3 linked regions of the Homo sapiens genome follow. The protein of the gene in region 3 purifies or fractionates together with the protein of the main gene of each other region. This does not show direct contact. Each region holds a gene or a part of one and is shown on either strand. Other genes may lie near its edges. The genes, in order: IGBP1, ATP6V1A and TIPRL.

Evidence for each region.
Region 1: the proteins of TIPRL (region 3) and IGBP1 purify together in Homo sapiens (affinity purification with western blotting; 2 studies listed by BioGRID and IntAct, with this or other methods). This does not show direct contact.
Region 2: the proteins of TIPRL (region 3) and ATP6V1A fractionate together in Homo sapiens (co-fractionation; 2 studies listed by BioGRID). This does not show direct contact.

The regions. Positions count from the first base shown.
Region 1 is NC_000023.11:70,128,715-70,136,451, forward strand, and holds the start of IGBP1 (immunoglobulin-binding protein 1), read left to right. Parts: upstream 1-4,732; 5' UTR 4,733-4,826; intron 4,827-5,008; 5' UTR 5,009-5,233; coding exon 5,234-5,421; intron 5,422-5,808; coding exon 5,809-6,102; intron 6,103-7,737. UniProt on the Homo sapiens protein: Associated to surface IgM-receptor; may be involved in signal transduction.
Region 2 is NC_000003.12:113,743,187-113,750,096, reverse strand, and holds the start of ATP6V1A (V-type proton ATPase catalytic subunit A), read right to left. Parts: upstream 3,063-6,910; 5' UTR 2,984-3,062; intron 1-2,983. Other genes in the region: NAA50 (N-alpha-acetyltransferase 50), read left to right, coding at 4,148-4,155. UniProt on the Homo sapiens protein: Catalytic subunit of the V1 complex of vacuolar(H+)-ATPase (V-ATPase), a multisubunit enzyme composed of a peripheral complex (V1) that hydrolyzes ATP and a membrane integral complex (V0) that translocates protons.
Region 3 is NC_000001.11:168,174,548-168,182,033, forward strand, and holds the start of TIPRL (TIP41-like protein), read left to right. Parts: upstream 1-4,414; 5' UTR 4,415-4,530; coding exon 4,531-4,634; intron 4,635-7,486. UniProt on the Homo sapiens protein: May be a allosteric regulator of serine/threonine-protein phosphatase 2A (PP2A). Isoform 1 inhibits catalytic activity of the PP2A(D) core complex in vitro. The PP2A(C):TIPRL complex does not show phosphatase activity.

The sequences.
Region 1 (7,737 bases), on a different chromosome or scaffold from region 3:
ATAGGTGAAGGGTGGGGATCAATCAGAGGAAAGCACGCCAAACAGGAAGAGAGGTTCTCAATCCGGTCTGTGGATTTATTCGAGACTTGTAGCTTGGTTTTCAGACTTTAAACTGTCTTTGGTTTGAAGGTCAGGTTTCACAGGGGACCCGCCCCTGTCTGCCTAGGGATTTGTCTGCCTCCTGCTGCTATCATCAGGCTAATAGTATTGTTCAACTATGGATTCGTTCATAATTTGAGTTTGCAAGGCAAAACAGTATAGATGATGTGAGTCCATGGGCAATTATTAGGACAACTGCACCCATAAAACTTCAGGGTATTTGGATGAGGATGGCTACAGTAAAAAGTGCCATGTGGCTGCTTACAGAAGAATAGGCAATGAGATATAGAACAGTTAAGGGGAACTATAATCTTGTAACAGGGTCTACATGATTTTGAAGCAGTAGGCAGCAAACAACTATGAGGAATCAGGTCAGAGGGCAAGCTGACCTCATGAATTCAGCATGAAGCTGAATTTGCTGCGAGTTTGGTTTATTTTTTTTCTCTCCCTCCCTTCTTCCCTGATTAATTTTATGAAGTTTATAGGGATTGTTTCAATTGAAGCTTACACAGCATCCTGAACTACAGAAAGGAATAGGGGCTTGGGGCTTCCTGGGGGCTGGTGGCAACACAAGAGTTATGGGAGAGCAAGGGAAGGAAATGTGTGGTAACAGAGGTTGTCTTGTTATGCAGATAAAAAGTCTTTCAGGTAATAAAACTTCTCTCAAAGCAGCTCTCAGAAGAATAGGTGATTGTCTGGGTGTGGTGTCAGCCTCCGATCTCCTCTCCTGTGATCCAAGTTAATCTTCCCTGGTTGGTAAGATTCCTAGAGAGGGGATTCATGACAATTACATTCCTTTTGGAGGAGCCAGCTTTAGGCAGATAAGGGGAGCTCAGAGACAGCCTCTGCCTGTATCCACTGTTCCCCAAGTGCCCTTGGTTCAAATAATCAGCATACCAAAGTGGCATATTTTGGGATGGCATCTCCTGAACTCCTTCACATGTAAAGTACTTAGCATAGTCACTTGGCAGGATGTGAGCGCTCAGAGAAGGTTAGGTATTATTATGATACAAAGTTATTCATTTAACATTGAGTCTCTCCTACCTACTGGGTGGCAGGTTCTGTGCTAGAGTGAACAAAGATGAGTAAGACACTCTCCCTGGCCTTAAAGAGCTCTCAGTTTAGTGAGAGACAGGTGTGGATAAAGATAACCACAGTACAGTACTATCACAGGGGGATGAATCAAATGCTATAAGAGCTAAGAAGGAGGTAGCCTCGCCTACAGGGGAAAATCAGGAAGTGCTTCCCAGAGCAAGTGATCTTTGAGCCAAGTTATGAGTAATGAATAGAAATTTGCCAGGCACAGACAAGGAAGATGACATTCCAGGCAGAAGGTACCACCTATGTGAATGCATGAAGGCCTAAGAGAACATGATAGGTTTGGAGAACTAGGAGAGTTTGCTAAAGATTCAGCTTAGGATCCACGAAGGAACAAAATGAAAAGGATGTCAGCAGGCAGATTAGAAAGGATCTTAAAGTCATGTTATTGAGTTTGACCTTTAACAGAATGCCCCTCCGGGCCAAAGTTATTCTCTCCATTCCTCTAACACCTTGAACACACCTTTATCAAAATATTTATCAAATTAACATTTGATTATTTGTTTACCTGTCTCTTCCGTGGAACTATGGACCCCTTAAGAGCTTAAACCTCGGGTAGTGTTCGAATTCTCAATGCCTAGCATTCAGGTAGCACACAGCATGTATGGAAAGAGCAAAGGAAGGAATTTCTCCAAGGTCCCACAGCTATTCAGTAGCAGAGTTGGGCTAAAGGGATCCTCCCACCTCAGCCTCCCAAAGTGTTGGGATTACAGGCGGGAGCCACTGCACCTGGCCAGATTAATGCTTTTTATATTGTGTTACTTAGAGCCCTTGAGTCCCTCACCTGGAGTGCCACTCACTGAGCAGGTTGAGGAAGATGGGCCAGTGGCTGAGTTGGCAGGCTTCTTTGTATCCTCTTCAAATACATCAGTCCTTTTAGAAATTACAGGCTCTCTAAAACTTGTTTTGGAAAAAGAATTATGCTACTACAAAAAGTTTAAGTACCGTTATACTTTCATGATTGTTAAGTGCCCTAAACTAGGATTTTAAAAAGTCTCCCATGCACAACAGGAGTTTAATATGATAAAGTGTTTACACACAAAACACAGCAAACGACTCGTTTTTATTATTCCTTTTTTTCTTTCTTTTTTGTGAGACAGAGTCTCGCTCTGTCGCCCAGGCTGGAGTGCAGTGGTGTGATCTCGGCTCGCTGCAGCCTCTGCCTCCCGGCTCACTGCCTCAGCCTCCGGAGTAGCTGGGGTTACAGGCCCGCGCCACCATGCCCAGCTAATTTTTGTATGTTTAGTAGAGACAGGGTTTCACCATGTTGGCCAGGCTGGTCTTGAACTCCTGACCTCAGGTGAGCTGCCCACCTCGGCCTCCCAAAGTGCTGGGATCACAGGCATGAGCCACCACGCCCGGCCATTATTCCTTTTTTTCTAACCACTTTTTAATCTTGGTATTCTTTCAGAATAAGATGAAATGCAATGCTTAAAATGACAACTCTAATATATAACAGGCACTCTGAAAGTAATTGGCATCTCCCATAAAGACCGTCATTTTGGCTGGGCACACTGAATCACGTCTGTAATCCCAACACTTTGGGACGGTGAAGCGGGTGGATCACTTGACCTCAGGAGTTTGAGATCAGCCTGGGCAACATGGCGAAACCCCGCCTCTACAAAAAAATACAAAAATTAGCCAGGAGTGGTGACTTGCACCTGTAGTCCCAGCTAATTGGGGGGCTTGAGGGTAGAGGATCACTTGAGTCCAGGAGGCGGAGTTTGCAGTGAGCTAAGATCGTGCCAATGCATTCCAGCACTCCAGCCTGGGTGGCAGAGTGAGACCCTGTCTCAAAAAAAAAAAAAAAAAAAGACTAATTTTGAAAGCCATAAAAAATGACTTACAAAGTTTAAGACCAAATTAAGACTGTGCACATTTTTTTCCTCTTAAGTAACAGTAAAGACATGTTTTAATCCAAGCAAATGCAGAGAAGCAAATTATCTTTACTCTCACAATTACTACATTTCTAAGTCTCCTCCACAAGTACTATCTTTTTCTTTATATTCCCTGCCAAGCCTGACCCTGAAAGGTCAGTTTACTAGAGGTGCCAGATAAACCAAATAGGTAATTCGCCAAAGCCTCACTTCCTTCTTAGTTTATAAAGCAGGGGTTGCAAGGGAAGGTTTATTAGAATCACCTGGGAAGCTTTTTCAACCTACATGTGTGCCACAGCCTCCTCTCCCTCTTAGGAAGCACTGTTCTAGTTTGGGGCTTCAATCTGTCCCACATTAAAGGTCTTCATCTTTCTAAATCCTACCCAACTGAAGGTTAATGGAGTAGAAACAATTGAACGCAGAAGTCACTGACTTTGTCACAAACTGGCTGGACAAGTCCCTTAACCTTTCTGGTCTCAAGTTTTTCCTCCGATTTTGGGGGTTCCCTTTAAACTTTGACATTCTTCTATGTGACCGCATGTCATGTCTAAGAAGCCTTCTGAACTACTCCTAGCATGGGATGACTTGCCCTTTCTTGCTTTTCCAACAGCCTGTGCAATACAACATATCACCTATTTTATACTGTCCTATATTGCCCTCTAGTTGTTTTTTAATGAAGCTTTTTTTCTTCTCAACGATATGTAGTTTAAAATACTAGTTTAAAAGTTTATTTTCAGGGGTAGACAGTGTGCCTGCTACTTAAATCTCCTAGGACAATTCAGGCTGCGTCCTAAGGTAATCAGTATGTATTTATATTGCTTTGTTCAAAACAATGACGTCCCTTCTTTGAAGTCCTGAAATTATGTTTTCCATCAGTTCTGTCCAGTAGAAATATAATGGGAGCTACAAATATAGTTTTAAATTATCTGGCAGGCACATTTACAAAGTGAAAAGAAAGAAGTACAATTAATTCTAATAATATATTTAATCCAACATATCCAAAAGACTATCATTTCAACATGTAGTCCATGTAAAAAGTATTTACATTTTTCATTCTTTTTTTTTTAAATGTCTTTGAAATCTGGGGTGTTTTTTACACTTGCAGCACATCTCGATTCAAAATAGCCACTTTCAAGTGCTTAGTAACCACATGTAGCTAGTAACTACCTACTGAACAATGCTGTTCTGCATAAGTTGGCTGCTTTCCAAACTGATCACTTTTTTTTTTTATTCAGATAATGACTGATACTGAGTACTCAGGCTAGCCAGAGTGGTGCAAAGATGAGTCAAATTCATTCTGATAAGAGAGATTTGTAAGTCACTAGCAATTATACAGCGTGGTAGGTGCCATGATAGAGATGCATAGGAGAAACCCAGACTTGGCGGCTGAAGGGCACAGGGTGGAAGGCGGTAGAGAGACAAGGAAGGTTGCACAGAAATAACATTTGATGTAGGAACTAAGTGCACGAAGGGAAGCCGGCTGTGCGGTGACCGGAGTTGCAGGTTGCCAATCTTGCTGAGGGGGGCTCCACCGGACGCCGGCCTACGGGTCGTAGGCGTGTGTGGGGTGAAGGGGGAAGAGGACGGGAGAGGATTGGCTGGGAGGAACCCGGAGCTCCATCTGGTGGGTGGACGGAAACCGCAGGGGGGCGCTACTTGCACTTCGCGCTCAAGCGACCGGATCTTCAAACCGTGGGAGTGGTGCGGCGGCTAGAGTCCCTGGACTCCTCAACCTAGGGAGCTACTCGCGAGGTAAGGGGCGCGCCAGACTGGCTCCTAAAACGCACTCGCTCGTCCGCACTCCTCGCGCTCCGAATTCAGCCTCGCCTCACCCGGGCTTCAGAGCCCACAGAACTTCTCAGCCCCGTGTCGGCGACGAGGAGCTCATGGTAAAACAGCGCCTAGGGTTTTGCTTGTTTGTTTGCTTTTAACAGATGCCTACGACTTGTAACGGGCTGCCTGGTAAAATGAGTCTATGGAAACGGTTGCCAGGGCCGGCTAACAGCGGCTCCCGGAAGTCCTTTGATGCTTTGTTAACAGTGAAGCTACTGGACCAATGAGGTGCTTCTTCCGGTTTTGTCCGCGCTCGCCTAATTCTTCTTTATCAAGGTTGCCTTTGACCCCGGAAAAGAGATCTTCCGGGTTCCTCTCTCCCCAAGATGGCTGCTGAGGACGAGTTACAGCTGCCGCGGCTCCCCGAGCTGTTCGAAACTGGTAGACAGTTACTGGACGAAGTAGAAGTGGCGACTGAACCCGCCGGTTCCCGGATAGTCCAGGAGAAGGTGTTCAAGGGCTTGGACCTCCTTGAGAAGGCTGCCGAAATGTTATCGCAGCTCGACTTGTTCAGGTATGGGGGAAGATAGTAATAATGGCTGAGAACGAAGGTAATAATGGTTACCAAGGGTGGAGCCATTGCGCCTGAGTGGAGGGGACCTTTAGTGGTGAGAACGTTTCGTTCCTACTTACCACTGCGATCTTGTGTACATTGTTTACATTCCCCACCTCTCTTCCCAGATGGTTGATATCTTACGACTCTGCTTCCTAGCGTCTGCTGATTGCATAGGCATTGGGTGTGAGCCCTCAGCCACTTTCATTGAGTGAAACTGGCCGCTGTTCCCCGTGCCTCCTCCCTCTGGTCCACTCCCAGCCCAGCCTCCCACTCCGTCCCCCAGAAAGCAAGGGCCACAATTTGAATGCCTAGTCAGGCTTCACTGCCTCCTTTTTGCTCTTCCAGCCGAAATGAAGATTTGGAAGAGATTGCTTCCACCGACCTGAAGTACCTTTTGGTGCCAGCGTTTCAAGGAGCCCTCACCATGAAACAAGTCAACCCCAGCAAGCGTCTAGATCATTTGCAGCGGGCTCGAGAACACTTTATAAACTACTTAACTCAGTGCCATTGCTATCATGTGGCAGAGTTTGAGCTGCCCAAAACCATGAACAACTCTGCTGAAAATCACACTGCCAATTCCTCCATGGCTTATCCTAGTCTCGTTGCTATGGCATCTCAAAGACAGGCTAAAATACAGAGGTGGGTCAATAGCTATAATATGAGGCCTGCCCAATGGCGGTGCTTTTCAGGGGCATGCTTTCTTGGCGGGTGGTGGGGGGCCAGAATGGTATGTGTCACTTTCTTGGTTCTTATTGAGCATAGGCCCTAGGGAGAGCAAACTTTCCTGAGTTTTTCCAAGAAGCCTCTGCTTTTGTTGAGATGATTATACCTACTTATCAGACCCTTACTACCTTATGGTTGGCAACAGCAGCAATGTAGTTTAGCAGAGTGTCTCCCAACCTTTTCCACATCACATCATAGCAATGTTCATATGGTACAGTGGGGTAGATGTCTCTGAAAGGCAAAGCTAGGCCATTTTATGGTCCACTGATTGAGGAGCTCTGTTCAGACTACTGGAGTAGATGTGTAACATCCTGAACTGATCTTAGTCCTGGCACAGCTTCATTGTGTGACCTTGGAAAAGTTGCTTACTTTCTTAGGTTTTTTTTGTTGTTGTTGTTTGTTTTTTAAACAACATTTAATGGGTGGTCATGATGTCTAGGAACTATGCTAGGCACTGGGGATACAAACTGTATAGGTATTTGTGTGAGTATGAGTGGTCCCTGCCTTGGAGGAGCATACAATCTGGTGAGGAAAACGGGCATAGAAACAGAATATCAATATAAACTGATGTTGTGGAGGGATGCACAAGGTACTATGAGAGCAGACAGGAAGGGCACCTAACCAAAGGGAGCAGGAGAGAGGAGAAAGCTCCCTGGAAGAGGTGACTCCTGTGCTGAGTTCTTTAAGGGTAAATAGGAATATCCAGGGGAAGAGGAGAGGAGGGCATTAGCCGGCAGAGTATGTAAAGCCTTAGTAAAGCCACAGAGGCATTAAAGAAACAGTGGTGGGTGGAGATGTGTAGACCAAAAACAGCAGCTATGAGCAATTAGGTGATGGTAGAACACAAAGAGGGTGGTGGTAAGGGGGAAGGAATGATACTGAAGAATGTTGTAGGGTCCACATCAAGGAGAGCCTGGGATGTGAGGAACGTGAAGAGAAACTTGTTGCTGAGAACTTGGTAAGGTGTTTGAATCCCAGCTCGACGACTGTGATTAATCACTGTGATTTGTGGTAAGTTATTTAATCTTTCAGTACCTTAATTTCCCCAGCTGCAAAATTCAGATAATAATAGGTTCTTCCTCATAAAGTAGTTTATGAGGATTAAAAGAGAAATATATATAAAGCAGTTAGCCCAATGTTTGACACAGTAAACACTCAAAGTCAACTATTATTATTTGTGGCTAAGAGTATGGGTCATAGAGTCAGAGACCTGGGTTTGAGATCCAGCTTTACTTATAATCTGTTGGACTTTGGGGAAGTTATTTAACCTAACTGAGCCTCAGCTTTCCTCATATGTGAAATCTAAGTAATAATGGTACAGATGGTCCCCGATTTGCGATGGCTTGTCTTAGAATTTTTTAACTTTATATTGGTGCAGAAGCAATACACAGTCAGGGGAACATCAATAAATTACATGAGTTATTCAACACTTTATTATAAAATAGGCCTTGTGTTAGATGATTTTGCCCAACTGTAGGCTAATATAAGTGTTCTGAGCATGTTGAAGGTAAACTAGGCTAAGCTATGATGTTCAATAAGGTGTATTAAATG
Region 2 (6,910 bases), on a different chromosome or scaffold from region 3:
GCAGAGCTGAATGAAGATCCTCTGACTTTTAGTCTAGTGCTAGTCCACTTATAGATCACGCAGAGCCACTTTTTCATTTAGTACGATTCATTCCTCTTCCCTTCTCTCCCATATTTTGATGATAACCATACTTATTAGTAAACAAACATGCTGTGAAAATAAGTTGGTCTCAGCATTAATAAAGTCCATCTGAGGTTTTTATCTATTGTATTGACCATGAATTTGGAAGGTTATTACCAGTTTATATTTAAAAGCTAACATTTAGTGCACAACTTTAGGAAGAGCTATGATCTGCAAAAATTAAAGTGGTTTAATTTCTTTGTCTAATTGCCCAACATTCATTCAATAAATAATTTATTGAGTACCTATCAGGTACTTCAGTATTCTGGTGCTGAAGACACAATAGTATTATAGTTCACAGTCCTGAGAGCTTTATGATTTGCTGAGGAAGAGCCCAGGGAACAGGAATTAAATACAATGCTAGAAGTGCAAGTAGAAGAATAGAAAAGATGATGATGATGATTAGTAGTAGTCTATAGGACTGAGTGGCTACCTCTGCCCATGGGGAAGAAAGCATTCTTAGTGGTGGCAAAAATCTATAAAGGCACTGAAAACAAGAACTCAGGAAAAGAAAACCAGAAGTGCCAAGGGCCCTAAAATAAAACCAAACCCTTATGCTTTATTTAATAGTGGACTATAGCACAATTCCCTAATAAATGTTAAGATTTCTACATGTAACACTCATAAACTGATAAGGCTAGTCTCAGAAATGTTTTCCAGGCTTCCAATCGTGTGTGTGTGTGTGTGTGTGTGTGTGTGTGTGTGTGTGTGTGATCTGTGTATAATGTCAAAGCTTTTTTTCACATTTAACCTTACTAGCAATGTAATCACCAATTCCCACTACTAATCTACATTTCATCAGTGGTCTAAGTTATTGCTTTCACGAGTTCCCTAAAACTGGGGGAATTGTGAAGTAAAACTGCAGACTCATCCAACCACTTTCATACTGACATTTTCCCCTCTAGTAGTCAATGCTTCTAGCTGGTTTTCTCTTTCACATTTTGGTCTCAGCCAGACAGGACTAGTTAGGACTTCCAGACCACATAAGGAATTCTCCTTACGTGGTGCAATGTCACCTGGTCACTGAAGTAACACTTCCTTTTTTTCTTCCCCTCTCCTCTAGAGATCAAGGAACCTTATTATGGAGAAAATTAATGGATAAAACTACATATATATATCTACAGCAGGCATGATGACATAAATATATCAATACATTAGTCTATTGTCCAGTATGGGTCGTAAGTACGAAATGCTAAAATGGTAAATCCACAAGAGATAGTAGTAATCTTCATTACTTGGGGAAAGCAACATCTCCGAGGTTATGTTTTCTACTAAGGAGCATCAATAAGCTAGGTTATGTATTTTGCACTTACTATAAAAATACTTTGTTAAACTGCTGCTATTGTAGAATTTTAACTTTTTATTCTCCTTAACAAAATAAGACCGTTTATTGTATAGAATTTGGAAGACACAGAAAAACAAAAATAAATCAGTCACATCCACCAAAGATGATTCCATCTTCCTCATTTTCCAGCAGTCTTCTTTAATTACCTTAGTTAGAAAACTACAAGATTTAACTGAGCATATAATTTTTCATATTAAGAAAGGTGTAATTTAAATTTTAAAAATCAAATTTGTAATATTCGTAAGACCTTCAATTGAAAAGCAGCATGGAATTTTCTGAGTTTGCAGTATAAATAAAAGAGTTTAACCACAAACTGAAAAACATTCTTCCCTAAAGCACATTGTTTGGGATCAAAACATTGGTAATAATACATTATGGACGGAATGGGAGTACTTGGGTTGGACAACACCTGTATTTTCAATTGGACAACAATTTCTGTATTTTCACAAAATACTATTCATCAAAATCTGAAGAGGGCACCGGGAGTTTTACAAATGGGGAAAGCTAAAGAGGGATACAAATGCTACTTAACCTAAATTTACCACAAAGCCGATCAAGGAATAGATTGGGAGTGCCAATTCAGTAGTATTTTAGGGGAAAATGACAAAAAGGGAAGGATTGACGGCAGAAAACATGTGCAGACAGCAACATCTCGACTTGATTCTACCTTTAAGCATATGGCCAAATCAATTTGGTTTAACTATTTCCAACCCAATCAGTTTCTTATTTCGGTTTCAGGGAACCCTACTCACTCTTCCCTAAACCAGCCTGGGCCTCCTGCACACCACAACACCACAATACCATCTTTCAACGCCTCCTCATTCAATCGAGACTGTCGCATTACTAACACCTCCTGTTTTGAAGACAGTATTCCTTCAACTGTCCTCTCTGCAGAGAAGAAAAAGTAAAAGCCCTTCTTTTACTTTTCTAGTCCCATCCGAAGCACGTGAACATCTACGGAACCTTCCCTGCAGGTATGTCAGATAAAATCCTTAGAATCACTGAGAAAGCACATTCGGAGGGAAGCTTCACAGTGACTCTGCAGTGAGGGCCGTATCAGTGACAGTCCCTCCCAAGCCTGTCTCACCGGAGACGCCTCTGCCTCCAGGGTTTTTGCTACCTCCCCGCTCCTCAGCCCTGAGCTGAGGGTAAGGACAGTGAGGACCTTTGCCAAAGAATGGGCTTTAAGGAATGGGACCTAATGTCTACTGCAGACCCTGTGAAATGGCTGAAACAATCTGCTACCCGAAGCCCCAAAGGCTCTGAGTAGGGAACCATAATGGCCGCACTCACTTCCAACCCTGGGAAAGGTGGACATCTGAATCCCCAAGTAGCGGGAACGACCACACTTGGGGGAGCGGGGGTTAAGGAGAAATGAGCTCCTTGCCGGTGCAGGGTGACAGCGGGGAGGAAGCCTCAGGCAGAAAAGTCGCCGTTCACACTCTCCCTTCTCTCCTTCCTCTGCCTCCTTCCACCCCCTCTATCCCCACCACTCGCCAGTTACCGGTCGCCGCTCACCTGCTGGGGCGCGAGGTGCAGAGACTGTACCGACCGAGGACCCAGAGGCTGTCACCACGGAGGGGAAGTCCTCAGCTGCACAGGTTGGGGGGGGGGGGGGGGGCGGGCCCAACCAGTCACATGACGTCGAGCTCCGCCCTGCCTCCTCCATCCCAGCGCTCTACATCTCGGGGGGCCTGAATTTTTACGGATCCCTTGAATATTAATTTTCTTGGATTAAAGAAATAAAAGATAAATTTTCACAAAGAGTATGTTATAAAGTACAATGTGGAAAATGTGGACAGCAAGAGTTAAAGCGCATTGCTAAGGAAGTGACGTTCACGCCACAATCGAGGGACAGGAAATGGCGGTGGCGTTCCGTCCCTCTGGAGTCCGCCGGTAAAATTCCAGGCTCTGAGGTTTGGGCCAATCACGTGATCTTAAAACTTGAGGCGTGCTGGAGGGTAGCCAATCTATCTGGCCGATTGTTAACTACGTTTGTTTTAAAACACCTAACTTAAACTTGAGCTTTCCACAGATTTCTTTACATTTAGAAGAACTAACTTTATAAAACCCTACTAGGAGGCAACAGCGTTTGAAGGTCACTCTGGAGACCACAAACTGGGAAGAACGGGGCTGAGAAAAACTATCTTGCGGATATGGGACAAGAGAGGGAGGGGTGGAAAAATCTGGATTTTACCGCCAGGGCCTACCGAGCCAGCCCCACAAGCAGTGTCGTAAGCGGGTGGGAGGGAGGAGCATGACCCCAGAAGGCCCAGTCCAGGAGAAAGATGGAGGTTCCGGAGTGGAGGGGGCAGGGTGCGCGGAGGCGAGCAGTGCGGCTGCGCGTGAGGCGGCGGCGCGCCGGCGCGCGAGGGGCGGGGTGAAAGGTCACAGCGCGGCAGCGGGTCTGGCTGGCGGCAGCGGCGGGAGGGAGCCGAGAGACCCGAGTGCACGTGTGGAGAAGCGGCGGCACAAGCGCGGCGGCGGGAGACACTCCCGCCCCCACCAGACTCAAGCCCTCACTCGACTCTCGCGGCCTTCGTTGCTCGCACAGCTCCCTGCCCAGGCTAGGAGGCCGGCTTGCGGGGTTGAGTGGCCCGAGCTAAGGGTGCGGAGACCTAAGGGCGGCGACTACGACGGCGTTGATATCGGTGGTAACGACGGCCTCAGCAGGCGGGGAAGATGAAAGGGTGAGGAAGGGCAGCCGGGCAGGGCCCGGCCGGTGGGGTAGAAGGGTCCGGGCCCATGTAGAGGGGGAGAGCCGCAAAGGCGAGGAGAGATTCAGGGCGAAGACGGGCGGAGGGAGATTTCTCTGCTTCTCAGTTCCCTCGGCTCCCGGAGGGGGCGGAGGCGAGGCTCGGGCTGTTGGCGGGCTGAAGGGCCAGCGGAGGCAAGACCCGGGGGGCTTCAGGGTTTCGGTTCGGAGACGAGTGTGGGTTGTTGAGTGGGGAGAAGCGACCGAGTGGGGCAACATGGAAAGGCTATTGTGAAGCGCCCGGGGCCTCCTTCCCGGGAGCGGACCGCTGAGCCACGCCGGCCCGCAGCTCCAGGTGGAGTGGTTTGGTTGTCTTCCACCTCCAGACTCAACTCTGGAACTGCGGTGTTTGACACCTTTCAGTTTAATTCACGCTTGGGAGCTGTGCAGAACCTTCTGGAGGAAGAAGAAATTGGAATAAAGAGCACGGGGATGAGTATTAAGAGCTAGTGACTCAACTAGATTTGGGTTGGGTCACAGCGAGTGGAGGAGGGGGAGAGAGCGCGATCACTGTAGACTTGGGGTGCCAACATATTTAAGGAAGTATAGGGTGGATCAGTAGGTGGAGCTGTTGCTTCAGTAGTTCACTATTGCCCCTGAGTGCTGAGGCGGTCCTGGGTAGTTCTACCACGCTGCTCCTTTCAGGTGATTGGCAAAGTTAATGTTCGGTCTTTCACCGTTTGCCTCTTACGTAAAATTAGGAATTATTTTGGATCGACTGGTTAAGTTTTTATGAAATGTCTCCTTACCATTAAGTTGTATAGTTTTAATGTATTAATTACGTAACATTTTTCCGAAGCATTGTCTCAAGCCGTTTTGGAGCTTGTCTTTACCCTCAAAGAGATGAAGCTCATAAACGTTAAAAAGCTCTCTGCGATGCCATAGTTTGTTGTTGTAAGTCGATTAAGAAGTCGTAACTATGTTTTAAGTTAACGAAGTCATTCCAACTATTCAATAGCACTTTTGAGGATGAAATAAAAGTCACTTTCAACGTAATCTCATACTGCCCCAAACAAGGACCTAAATATTACCTCTGTGTATCGGTATTTGAGGTTCCTGAAGAGATTCCAAGAAAGTTTAATTTGGTCTTAGGTCTGTAACATGTTTCCTTACTTTAATTTTCCTTTAAATACTGGATATTTATTCTAATGTTGAATTGTATGTTTTGTACTAATAATCTTTAAAGTTTAAGAACCATGAACTATTCACAGTACCTGCATTGTTTCACATCAAGTTGTAAAGAGTTCCAGTTAGGGAAATATAATTGACGGGTATAGGAAGTATTTGCTCCACTTGAATCATGATCTTGGAAGTTTGGCTATTTCAGATACAATCCAACATATTTGGAGAATGTTGTTTTTCTGCTATACTGCACTCCTTTTGTTTTGTTCTTTTCATTTTTTTTTTTTTAATGAGGCAGGGTCTGGCTCTGTTGCCCAGGCTGGAGTGCAGTGGCGCTATCTCGGCCCACTGCAACCTTTGCCTCCCCAGCTCAAGCAATCCTCCCGCCTCAGCCTTCCGAGTCGGTGGGACCTCAGGCGCGCACCACCACGCCTTGCTAATTTTTTGTATATTTTGTAGAGACGGGGGTCTGACTATGTTGGCCAGGCTGGTCTCAAACTCCTGAGCTCAAGCGATCCACCCACCTCTGCCTCCCAAAGTGCTGGGATTACAGGTGTGAGCCACTGAACGCGGCATATACTGCACTTCTTGAACATGGTTGCTGACTCTTACTCATTTTTGTACTCATTGTCAGGCACTCAGTACTTGTTTGTCATGTTCTGTTAAGTAAGAAAAATGAGGCTGAAGAGTTCCCAGTGTTGAAATTGCCATGGATTTACGAAGGGGTTGCCAGGAAATTATTCTGTATGTTTAGATCCAAAATCTTCAATCTAGTTCAGTCTCCATAGGCTGTGATGTTCTTTCTGATACATAACTTGGCGATAGAAATGAAGCTGAACAGTCATATTATTCACAATCTACCTTGAATTAATATATTCATGGAGCAATTATCTCTGTTTAAAATGGGTATTTACATGTAACCTGATGAAGGCAGATCCCTAGAAATAACTGGCCGAATTTAGAGGAAACTTACAACTATTGAATCTGTACCTTTATGCCAGTAACTATGCCAGTGAAGTTCCTATTACTTCTTATGATTGGGAGCTTAGAATTGTGTTCTTTACTGTAAACCTTTAAGATGATTTCACAGGAATAATCCCTTTAACTTAACAAATGAACTAACTCCCAGATGAGATGAAACTTTTTAATTTTTTTTGCTTCTAAGTCTGTATTTAAGACACTCAACAAATGAGTTGTGTGAATCTTACTTGTGCTTGTTCGGATACTGAACCTACAACAGTATAGGTTTAAAATAAGTTAAGCGCCTTGAGTTCCAAAACTTGTACCACAGTGCACAGTGTGGTCGATTTTAAAGTCCTGACTCTTAATTTGGAATGGCCTGTAAAAACGAAACAGTGGTCCTGGTTATGTGGCTTTTGTATGAAATTTTATTTGCTAAGTATTCTATTGTATATTGAGGTAAGTAAACAGTAAATTGAAATATCTAAAATTGGAAACTGCGGAAGTCCCAACACGAAGCCAGTCAAATATTTAAAATTGTACACTGTTGCCTATGTTGCCTATCATATTGAAACTTAAAACTTAGCTGGTTTTTCTTCATATTTTTA
Region 3 (7,486 bases):
GGTGGCATGGTACTTCTCTATCAAGGCCAGTTCATAGAAAATTATATTATAACATGACTTAGGGTAAGATGCAAATGACTGATTATGTGAATTAGTGGTCTGTTACCCTATCTAGAAGCAGCTGAAATTTTAGATGATAAATTAGTACATTTACTATGGAGAACAGTATGGAGATTCCTTAAAAAACTAAAAATGGGCTGGGTGTGGTAAATCATGTCTGTAACCCCATCACTTTGGGAGGCTGAGGCAGGAGGATCACTGGAGCCCAGGAGTTCGAGACCAGCCTGGGCAACATAGCGAGATCTCATCTCTACAACAAATAATAATAATAATAAAATTAGCTGGGTACAGTGGTGCCTGTAGTCCCAGCTACTAGGGAAGCTGAAGTGGGAGGATTGCGGGAGCCAAGGGAGTCAAGGCTGCAGAGAGCTATGACCATGCCTCTGCACTTCAGCCTGGGCAATAGAGCTAGACCCTGTCTGTTAAAAAAAAAACAAAACAAAACCCAAAAAACCTAAAAATAGAAGTACCCTATGATCCAGCAGTCCTACTGCTAGGAATATACTCAAAAGAAAGGAAATCAGTATATTGAAGAGATACCTGCACTCCCGTGTTTGCTGCAGCACTATTCACAATAGCCAAGATTTGGAAGCAACTGGAGTGTACACTAACAGACGAATGGATAAAGAAAATGTAGTGCAGGCTGGGCGTGGTGGCTCACGCCTGTAATCCCAGTACTTTGGGAGGCCGAGGCAGGTGGATCACGAGGTCAGGAGCTTGAGACCAGCCTGGCCAAGATGGTGAAACCCCGTCTCTACTAAAAATACAAAAATTAGCTGGGCATGGTGGCATGAACCTGTAATCCCAGCTACTCGGGAGGCTGAGGCAGGAGAATCGCTTGAACCCAGGAGGCGGAGGTTGCAGTGAGCTGAGATTGCGCCACTGCACCACTCCAGCCTGGGCGACAGAGCTAGACTCTGTCTCAAAAAAAAAAAAAAAAAAGAAAGAAAATGTGGTACATACATGCAATGAAGGACTATTTGGCCACAAAAAAGAATGAGATCCTGTCATTTGCAACAACATGGATGGAACTGGAGGACACTATGTTAAGTGAAATAAGCCAGGCACAGAAAAACAAACTTTTCATGTTCTCTCTCATTTATGGGAGCTAAAAATTAAAACAATTGAACTCATGGAGATAGAGAGTAAAATGATGGTTACCAGAGGCTAGGAAGGGTAGTGGAGAGGGGCAGAAATGGTTAATGGGTACAAAAATATAGTTAGACAGAATGAATAAAATCTAGTATTTGATAGCACAATAGGGTGACTACAGGCAACAATAACTTATTGTACACATGTAATCCCAGCACTCTGGGAGGCCGAGGCGGGTGGATCACAAGGTCAGGAGTTCGATACCAGCCTGACCAACATGGTGAAACCCTGTCTCTACTAAAAATACAAAAGTTAGCCGGCCATGGTGGTGCGTGCCTGTAATCCCAGCTACTCAGGAGGCTGAGGCAGGAGAATCGCTTGAACCCAGGAGGCAGAGGTTGCAGTGAGCTGAGATCGCACCATTGCACTCCAGCCTGGGTAACAGAGCGAGACTCCATCTCAAAAAAAAAAAATTACTAAAAGATTATAACTGGAATGTTTGCAACACAAAAATATAATAAATGTCTAAGGTGATGGATATCCCATTTGCCCTGATGTGATTGTTACACATTGCATGCCTCTATCAAAATATCTCATATACCCCATAAATATGTCTATTATGTACCATAAAAATTAAAAATAAAAAAATTTTTAAATAAAAAGAAATTTTAGATAGAAAACAAAACCTAATCTTGGCCAAAGGAACCTCAGAAAAACCTTAAAAACTGAATTCCAGGCCAAGATGGGAAGAGAGGTTAGACACACCTCTATACCTTCTCCCTTTTAAAGTTTAGGCACAACTGACCAACATTAAGGTTAAACTAGAGATCATAAGACTGACAAAACACTCTGTGGCAATAAGATACCATATTATAAACAAGACCTAGGCTGGGCGCAGTGGCTCACGCCTGTAATCCCAGCACTTTGGGAGGCTGAGGCAGGCGGATCACGAGGTCAGGAGCTCGAGACCAGCTTGGCCAATATGGTGAAACCCCATCTCTACTAAAAATACAAAAATTAGCTGGCCGAGATGGCGCGTGCCTGTAGTCCCAGCTACTTGGGAGGCTGAGGCAGAAGAATCGCTTGAACTGGGGAGGTGGAGGTTGCAGTGAGCTGAGATCACGTCACTACACTCCAGCCTGGGTGACAGAGCGAGACTCCGTCTCAAAAAAAAAAATAAATACAAATAAACAAGACCTGCGAGCCAGGCGCGGTGGCTCACGCCTGTAATCCCAGCACTTTGGGAGGCCGAGGCAGGTGGATCATGAGGTCAGGAGTTCAAGACCAGCCTGACCAACATGATGAAACCCCGTCTCTACTAAAAATACAAACATTAGCCGGGCATGGTGTTGCATGCCTGAAATCCCAGCTACTTGGGAGGCTGAGGCAGGAGAATCGCTTGAACCTAGGAGGTGGAAGTTGCAGTGAACCGAGATGGGGCCTCTGCACTCCAGCCTGGGCGACAGAGCAAGACTCTGTCTCAAAACAAAACAAAACAAAACAAAACAAAAAAACTATGGCCATGCAAGGCAAGGATTAAGTCATGCCCTACAAACCATAAAATGTCGTTAAATGGTTTTTTATGTGCAATGGTATAATGTGCCTTACTTTCCAACCTGACTGGTGTAGAATCACATGACAGATAGCAGACTCCCTTTTCTTAAGCATTCCTTTCTACTGACTTCAAGTCTTTAGACAAAGCTTAACACTGTTTTTTGTTTGTTTGTTTGTTTGTTTTTGAGACAAGGTCTTACTCTGTCACCCAGGCTGGAGTGCAGTGGCACGATCTCGGCTCACTGCAACCTCTGCCTCTCAGGTTCAAGTGATTCTCCCACCTCAGCCTCCCTAGTAGCTGGGGTTACAGGCATCCACCACCGTGCTTGGCTAAGTTTTGTATTTTTAGTAGACACAGGTTTTCACAATATTGGCCAGGCTGGTCTTGAACTCCCGACCTCAGGTGGTCCACCCACCTTGGCCTCCCAAAGTGCTGGGATTACAGTCTTGAGCCACTGCACCTGGCCTGTGTTTTTATTTGTTTTTGAGACAGGGTCTCGCTCACCCAGGCATGAGTGCTGTGGCATGATCATGGCTCAATGCAGCCTCTGAGGCTCAAGAGATCCTCCCACCACAGCCTCTCAAGTGGCCTGGGACTACAGGCAGATACCATCATACACAGCTAATTAACACGGTTTGTAGAGATGAGGGCTTACTCTGGTGCCCACGCTGGTCTCAAATTCCTGGACTCAAGCAATCCTCTCACCTAGGCCTCCCAAGATGCTGGGATTATAGGCAGGAGCCACCTCGCCTGACTAAAGCTTAAATCTTTCAACAGATTGCCGATCAGAAAATCTTTGAATCCACCTATGATCTGTAAGCCTCTCCTTCAAGACATCCCACTTCCTTAGCCTGAACCAATGTATATCTTCCATATATTGACTTATTTTACCTGCAATTCCCAACTCCCTAAAATGTATAAAACAAAGAGTAATGCCACCGCTTCAGATGCTCTTTGTTAGGACCTCTTGGGACTATTCCCTGGGCCATGGTCACTCATATTGGTTCAGAATAAATCTCTTTAAAACCTTTTACAGAATTTGTTTTTTTTCCATTAACAAAATCATCTCATTTTGAGGCAACTGAAGCCTAAAATCGTTAGAGAAGCGCTTTGCCCAAGGATTCACACAATAGTGTTGCAAATGGAGATTTAGCACTAAGTCAGCTGTGTTGTTTTCACTATACTGGGTGCCTACATAGCAACTAGACCATGGAAAGTCTTCGCATATCTACGAGGATGCAATTTTTGATAGGAGTTGGTCATAGTCAAGAGTGGCTAGATGGCCACTTCTAAATCTTGTTGGTGCTGGATTTCCTAAACTCTGTGGGATTACTTCTTTTTTTGACCTCAAAACAGAAAAATTTCCTCTGTAACACGATTCACTAACACATGAGGTAATCACACTGCTTTGAGGTCTGTAAGGATCAAGTTGGAACCGTCATCCCCTTCCCTGGCAGTCCCTAAAATCCTTCGAGATGACGTCACCCAACGAGTTCAAGAGGGCGGTGCGTTCCTAACCACACCTTCTGCAACCCAAGTGCCGCCCCTCTGACTTTCTCCTTTTTCCTTTTTTCCGGAACGCCGGAACGTAAGACGTGGGTCACGCAACAAGAGCAACTAGTCCCGGAAGCAAAAAGCAAAGAGGCGGAGAAGAAGACGGGAAGCAGAGCCCGCGTCCGGGTCGGCCGGCAGGGGGCGGGGCCGGGCATGGTAACGGCTCGGAAGCCTAGGAGGCTGGGCCGGAGGGAGGCGGAGGAACCGGTGTTCGCCGCCGCCGCTGCTTCAGCTTATTCCTTGTGGCCTCTGCGGGTCCTGCCTCAGCCATGATGATCCACGGCTTCCAGAGCAGCCACCGGGATTTCTGCTTCGGGCCCTGGAAGCTGACGGCGTCCAAGACCCACATCATGAAGTCGGCGGATGTGGAGAAGTGAGGCTTCGGGGCACGGGGTCTGGGCGCTGGCCGGTTGCTGGCCCAGGGCGGGAGGCAGGGCGAACTCTGTGCAGCCCCTCCCCTTTTCCCTGAGGCGGAGGTTCGGTCCCTCCGGACCGGACCTTTGATTGACAACTTCGATAAATAATCCAGTCACACTTCCGGGCCCTTTGGTTGGGGATCGCCAGGCGCTGCTTTCGTCAACTGTCAATCCGCCTGGGTTTGAGTAGAGTGTGACTGTTCTGGTGGACTTTCCCCTCACCAAACGTCTCCTCCTGCCTCAGCCTGCACCACCTTTCTTTCTGGGTGGCTGTTGCCTGTTTTCTTAGGGGTTAATGACGGGGATGATTTATAAGTTTGGTTTCTGTCACGTCAGGTGCTGTGCCCGGCGCTTGAGATAGGAAATGTAAAAGACAACGTGCGCCTCAATTCACAGTCTCGTGAGAGAGACAGACAATTATATTACAGCGTGAATAAATGTAATGAAGATGTATACACGGAGTGATGTGAGGTCTTTTAGGGGCTCGAACCATCTGGGAAATTGGGATGCCTGAACTGAATCTTTATAAAACCGTTGCGGGGGGCGGTGGATAGGTACATGCCATCAGGTCAGGCAGAGTGAGTTGTGATGCGTTTTTGATGCCTGGGCTGAATCTTGACAAAATTTAGGGGAATCAGGGGACGCATGTAAAGCTGGGGGCTCAGGGAGAGTGAAAGCTGTGATGTGTTTAAAGAGCTGTGTCCGTGTGATTGGAGCGTGAGGTACCATAGGGGGTGTTGTGAGAGATGAGAGGTAGGCCCCAGGGGAATCAAGATACTGAGGGAATTTTTATGCCTGGCTAAGGAGTTTTCAATTTTATCTGACAACCACTGGGTGTAATTTTATCCAAAGGAGCTGCATTATCAGATGTACGCTCTGAAAGATTTCTCTGGAGGCCATGTTGAGGCTGGATTGCAGGTCCGCAGGGATGGGAAGGAGACCAGTTAGTAAGAGAAAAGATAGGTTTTAGAAGATTAAGTCCCTGGGATGGCCAGCTGATGGGAGGAGAAATAAAAAAGGAAGAGTCTATGCTGATGACAAGATCTCTGGCTTGGATTTTTGCATGTATCGTATGCCTTTGAACAAGATGAGAAGCACAGGAGGAGGAGAAGCAGATGGGGGCAGGGTGTTGGTTAGAGGATGAGTTTAGTTTATTGAAATGTGAGGTGGGTATAGGTCATAAAGTGAAGATGTGTAGTAGGCATTTAGATATATTTATCTTGGAGCTCAAAAAAGATAACGTCTGTGGGTTTAAGTTTGGGAATTATCTGCTTATATTTGGTACCTGGAGCTTTGGGAATGAATTAAGGTATCTAGAAGTCATCCAGAGGAAAAGGTCATAAAATAGAACCCTAAGTGAGTACTTGCATTTTAAGATTTGAGCAGAGGGAGTGACCAGGGAAGAGAGGAAAGTAATGAAACGATGTTTGCTTCCTAATTCAAGAAAATAAGTGGTAATATTCTAGTAGACTCACTGAAAAAAATTAGGAAAATACAGAAAAGAAAGGAAAAAAATTTCCCTTCATCCCACCAGAAATTGAATTACTTTTTTGAGTTTTTCCTCTCTATATCTTTCTTTTCTTTTTTTTTTATAACTTTTTTTTTTTTTTTGTATTTTTAGTAGAGACGGAGTTTCTGCATTTTGCTCAGGCTGGTCTCGAACTCCTGACCTCAGGTGATCTGTCCGCCTTGGCCCCCCAAAGTGCCGGGATTACAGGCATGAGCCACTGCGCCCAGCCTTGTATAACTTTTATTTATTTTTTATTTTGTTTTTTTGAGACAGAGACTCACTCTGTCGCCCAGGCTGGAGTGCAGTGGCACAGTCTCAGCTCACTGCAGCCTCCGCCTTCCAGGTTCAAGTGATTCTCCTGCCTTAGACTCCCTGGTAGCTGAGACTACAGGCGCGTGCCACCACGCCTGGCTAATTTTTGTATTTTTATTTATTTATTTATTTTTAATTTTCTTTTCTTTTCTTTTTTTCTTATTCTTTCTTTCTATTTTTATTTTGAGATGGAGTTTCACTTGTTGCCCAGGCTGGAGTGCAATGGCGCCATCTCGGCTCACTGTAACCTCCACCTCCTGGGTTCAAGCGATTCTCCTGCCCAGCCTCCCAAGTAGCTGGGATTACAGGCATGCATCACCACGCCCAGCTAATTTTGTATTTTTAGTAGAGATGGGGTTTCACCATGTTGGTCAGGCTGGTCTTGAGCTCCTGACCTCAGATGATCCACCTGCCCTCGGCCTCCCAAAGTGCTGGGATTACAGGCATAAGCCACCGCACCCGGCCTCCTCTCCATATAACTTTCTGTGACAAATTGCCGATTGGTGCAAAAGTAATTGCGGTTTTTAATTGCAAAACCGCAATTACTTTTGCACCAACATAATACAATATATAATTATATTATATATAAAGCAGTCAGCTTCAAACTGGGGCCCCCATGTAATTTACTTACAGATTCTCTAAGCGATGGCTGTATACATGGAGAGTTTTAAGGGAATAAAATTCCATATCTACGATCTCCTTATGTATTATTTTAAAAACAAATTTGCCTGAGGCCGGGTGCGGTGACTCACTCCTGTAATCCCAGCACTTTGGGAGGCTGAGGCAGGCGGATCACCTGAGGTCAGGAGTTCAAGACCTGCCTGGACAACATGGTGTAACCCCGCCTCTACTAGAAATACAAAAAAAATTATCTGGGGGTGGTGGTGCAGGCCTGTAATCCCAGCTACTCTGAAGGCTGAGGCACGAGAATCACTTGAACTTGGGAGGTAGAGGTTGCAGTACGCTGAGATCGTGCCACTGTGCTCC